2 separate regions of the Homo sapiens genome follow, and region 1 is linked to region 2. Evidence: fine-mapped expression QTL. Tissue or cell type: lymphoblastoid cells. Region 2 holds a variant in brackets; the other region holds the start of a gene. All regions are shown on one strand. Distances are between the middles of the regions.

Region 1 (2,500 bases), 74 kb after region 2:
ACTGTAAAGAAAGCTCCAAGTAGCCTTGAATTAGTAGTATCATAAACAATGAGTTTTATCTTAACAGCAGTAGCTTAATAACAGCAAATTCAAAGCAGGCCGAAAACAAAAAAGAGATAGCTTTAGAAAACTCTACATTTTAATTGTATAGTTGCAGGTTGGGCATTTGAGCTCTGAATTTTCCTTGCTGTAATTTGCCCGTTCAGTTTTAAAATGTGCACAAGAACAGGCCACAATATGCAGCTAGCTGAAGTGCTGGAAAACCTGGCATGCCTTTGAACTTCTACAGGAGTTCCTGCCCCTAGTGGGTAAGTTACCTATTGCACTGACTTTATGAAGATATCTCTTCCAGTGCCCTTAGTGTGAGCATCCCCACAAACCTTATGAACCAGTTGAATCCAACCTGAATGCCTCTCCATAAGCCCGGAGCCCACAAATGCATTTTCTCCAGGGCCCTTGGATGGAGGGAATCAGGAAGGCCTCCTCCAAACCCAAGGCTAGGAGAGATGTTCCCTCCGGGGTCCAGGGAGGAGAACAGAAAGGACTGAGAAGAACTAGGAATGCCCTCCCAAACCCAAGGCCAGCAGGAGGGTCTCCTCCGGAGTTCCACAGATGGAGGAGGCCTAAAAGAAGAAATCAAGTCTGCAACCTAAAAGTGGGAGATCTTGGATTTTGATAGCACTTACCCAGATCCTTTCCCAGCATAGTCAGGAACAACTGGACTTTTTCAAAGGGACCTTGGCTGTACCTGGTGTCCTGGGTGACACAGGAAAAGGAATTCAGGGGCTGCTTCAGAATCCCATCTTTGCCAGATACGTTAACTTTAAAAAAAAAATCATAAGATACAAATTTAGAAAAATGGAGACACTATTTCTTAAGGGTGACAGCCTGCCAGGTGGCCATCCTGCAGGCCAGGAAGCACAGCCTCCTCCAGCAGAAGCCCAGAGACAGGCACCTCCAAGGAGGAGGGGTTGGGGTAGGAGTTTTATGCTTTTATGCTGAATGGGTTGGCTTAACACATATTCAACAGGTTACAGGAGGAGCTATGAATATTAATGAAAGTGGTCCTGATGCATGCATATTAAACATGCATCTTACATATGACACATGTTCACCTTGGGGTGGAGACTTAATATTTAAATATTGCAATCAGGCCCTATACATCAAAAGGTCTATTCAGGACATGAAGGCACTCAAGTATGCAATCTCTGTAAACCCGCTAGAACCAGTCATGGTCGGTGGGCTCCTTACCAGGAGAAAATTACCGAAATCACTCTTGTCCAATCAAAGCTGTAGTTATGGCTGGTGGAGTTCAGTTAGTCAGCATCTGGTGGAGCTGCAAGTGTTTTAGTATTGTTTATTTAGAGGCCAGTGCTTATTTAGCTGCTAGAGAAAAGGAAAACTTGTGGCAGTTAGAACATAGTTTATTCTTTTAAGTGTAGGGCTGCATGACTTAACCCTTGTTTGGCATGGCCTTAGGTCCTGTTTGTAATTTGGTATCTTGTTGCCACAAAGAGTGTGTTTGGTCAGTCTTATGACCTCTATTTTGACATTAATGCTGGTTGGTTGTGTCTAAACCATAAAAGGGAGGGGAGTATAATGAGGTGTGTCTGACCTCTTGTCCTGTCATGGCTGGGAACTCAGTTTCTAAGGTTTTTCTGGGGTCCTCTTTGCCAAGAGCGTTTCTATTCAGTTGGTGGAGGGGACTTAGGATTTTATTTTTAGTTTGCAGCCAGGGTCAGTACATTTCAGTCACCCCCGCCCAGCCCTCCTGATCCTCCTGTCATTCCTCACATCCTGTCATTGTCAGAGATTTTACAGATATAGAGCTGAATCATTTCCTGCCATCTCTTTTAACACACAGGCCTCCCAGATCTTTCTAACCCAGGACCTACTTGGAAAGGCATGCTGGGTCTCTTCCACAGACTTTAAGCTCTCCCTACACCAGAATTTAGGTGAGTGCTTTGAGGACATGAAGCTATTCCTCCCACCACCAGTAGCCTTGGGCTGGCCCACGCCAACTGTGGAGCTGGAGCGGGAGGGAGGAGTACAGACATGGAATTTTAATTCTGTAATCCAGGGCTTCAGTTATGTACAACATCCATGCCATTTGATGATTCCACCACTCCTTTTCCATCTCCCAGAAGCCTGCTTTTTAATGCCCGCTTAATATTATCAGAGCCGAGCCTGGAATCAAACTGCCTCTTTCAAAACCTGCCACTATATCCTGGCTTTGTGACCTCAGCCAAGTTGCTTGACTATTCTCAGTCTCAGTTTCTGCACCTGTCAAATAGGGTTTATGTTAACCTAACTTTCAGGGCTGTCAGGATTAAATGAGCATGAACCACATAAAATGTTTGGTGTATAGTAAGTGTACAGTAAATACTTCCATTATCAGTCCCTGCAATTCTATTTTTCTTCCTTCTCTACACAGCCCCTGTCTGGCTTTAAAATGTCCTGCCCTGCTTTTTATGAGTGGATACCCCCAGCCCTATGTGGA
Region 2 (2,500 bases):
CTCAAAAATTTCATAATTAAAGGGAGCATAGGGGTCAGATAAAAAGGTTATATTGTGAAATTATTAAAGAATAATTAAAATACAGAAAATATAAAAAATCTTCTGAATCTGAGTCCAAAGGAATTGGAAGGCAGAGATTGGATTAAGGTAAATTGGGGAAGTTGACAAGAGAGCTGACTTATGCTGAGGAAGGGGAGGGCTAGACCAAGGTTGAAGGAGAAAGGAATATTCCAGTCCTGGATTCAGTTGATGACAGCAGGACATAGGCTTCTCTGACCCCCACAAAACTGAAAAAAAAATTATATAAGCAGCTTTTTAAGGCAAGCTGTTGCTCACAGAGGAGTAGAGGGCCCTTTTCTGCAGGTTGGGGGTAACAGGGCATGTGCTGCAGAGACCACAGATTCTCCCTTATGACTCACTTCATGAAACATCTGTAACTAACTTAAGTCCATATTGGGGCTTGTGATTTGAGGGATCCTCTACTTGAAAGAAACTGCCTGTTTTTTTGATGCTTGTAATTCTTTTAAGTAGTGAAAAAAATCTTTTGTTCTAAAATTAGAGATGTGAAGCTTAACATGTGAAGACTTGACTCTGAATACTCATGCCCCTCAGTTTATGATGGGGATACACGCCTATAAACCCATCTAAGTTGAGAATATAAGTTGAAAATGCATTTACTACACCTAACCTACCAATCATCATAGCTTAGCCTCACCTACTTTAAATGTGCTCAAAACACTTCACATTAGCCTACAGTTGGGCAGAATCATCTGACAATATCATGCACTGTAAAGGTTGTCTACCCTTGGGAGCTGCAGCTTGATATCACTGCCCAGCATTGTAAGTGTCCTACTGAGTTCTACTGAATGAGTATCGCTTTCACACTGTTGTAAAGTGGAAAAATTGTAAATTGAACCATCATAAACCAGGGACCATCTGTACTCTAGCATGCTAAGTGTAATGAAGTATAAATTACAGATATAAAAATCCTTTGGTGTTTTTTTGGCAAATGTACTTGAAGACCTAAAGCCTTGTGCCATTTGTAGGAAAGGTAGGAGCAGACCAGTTCAAAGCTTACCAAAATGGTTCACTGTGGAGAAAAAGAGAAACTTCTATTAATACTATTTTGCACACTTATCTACAGTAGGTTGTATTTATCTTTAATAAATGCTTATTGGAATAACAAACAGATACAAGCCATAAATGCAGGCATTTTTATATTCCAAAGCTGCTGCAAGCACGGGCTTTGATTTTTATTAGTTTGTTTTG[T/A]GGGGGAGAGTTTTTAATGTGGCTTATCTATATAAAGAAGTATCTTCACTAGGATACATAAACTTAAAAAAAACTTATTTATTGAGTACTAACAATGAACCACGTGCGAAAGATACTATAAGCTGCTTTTTTTTTTTTTATTTTTATTTTGAGACGGAGTCTCACTCTGTCACCCAGGCTGGAGTGCAGTGGCGTGATCTTGGCTCACTGTGAGCTCTGTCTCCTGGTTCACACCATTCTCCTGCCTCAGCCTCCCGAGTAGCTGGGACTACAGATGCCCGCCACCACGCCCGGCTAATTTTTTTTTTTTTTGTATTTTTAGTAGAGACGGGGTTTCGCTGTGTTAGCCAGGATAGTCTCGATCTCCTGACCTTGTGATCCGCCCGCCTCGGCCTCCCCAAAGTGCTGGGATTGCAGGCGTGAGCCACTGCACCCGGCCAAGCTTACTTCTTTTATGGACCCCTCTAGAAGAATGAGAAAAGTAGAGAGAGAAAAAACCAGTTGTTAAAACAGTGGTGGGAAAACACCATGAGAATAAGAAGAAAAAGATTTTTGCAAGTGGGTGACTTAGGGAAGGCTTTGCTGAGGAATTAGCATTTGGACAGAGTTCTAAAAGAACAAAGGCGGTGCATGTGGTAAGGAGGGCATGCCATGCAAAATAAATAACATGGAAAAGCATGAAAATATGAAGAGCCAGGATGTGGATCCCTTTGGCTGCAGAATAAGTTCTGTATGGGGAAATGATGGAAAACGTGACAGAGAAGGTAAGTAGTAAGTAGGTTGTGAATACCTTGTATGCCATACTCAGTCATTTGGATTTTACAGCAGTGGGTAATTAAAGAATTTTCAGTGGCCCACTTGAAGGCTTAAGAGTTAAAGCAGTGATGGAGAGAGTGGAGACGAGAATCAATTCTTAAGGCATTTAGAAGGTATAGATAGAACTTGAGTGATTGATGGAAAATAAAGAGGACTTGAAGATAACAGGATCCTAGCTTGGGTGACTGAAAAGATGATGTCACCATTCAATATGATAAGGAATACAGAATGAGCAGGTGGAAAAGATAATTCATTTATTTTCACAAGTGTTAAATTTGAGAAAATCTATTGGATATCCTGGTACAGACACTCATTGGGAAGTTACAAACAGGGTTGCAGAGCCTAGAAGACAAGTCAGGTCTAAACACAGATTTGAGAGTCCTCCTCATTGAGGCAGAAAGACAAGTGAGTAAGA

The links. PIP is the estimated chance that this variant, and not a neighbour inherited with it, causes the effect.
Region 1: it holds the start of LINC01963, and the variant in region 2 is fine-mapped to the expression of LINC01963 in lymphoblastoid cells (GEUVADIS, PIP 0.95).

The regions. Positions count from the first base shown.
Region 1 is chr2:216,215,851-216,218,350 of GRCh38, forward strand. It overlaps LINC01963 (long intergenic non-protein coding RNA 1963), which reads left to right and starts at 1,039. Exons shown (of 1, transcript NR_037701.1): 1 at 1,039-2,500.
Region 2 is chr2:216,142,307-216,144,806 of GRCh38, forward strand. All of the region lies in intron 13 of XRCC5 (X-ray repair cross complementing 5), which reads left to right. Among named protein-coding and RNA genes, the nearest start is that of XRCC5, 34 kb to the left of the region's middle. RefSeq lists enhancers at 133-252, 423-532. The variant T/A (reference allele first, on the strand shown) is at 1,270.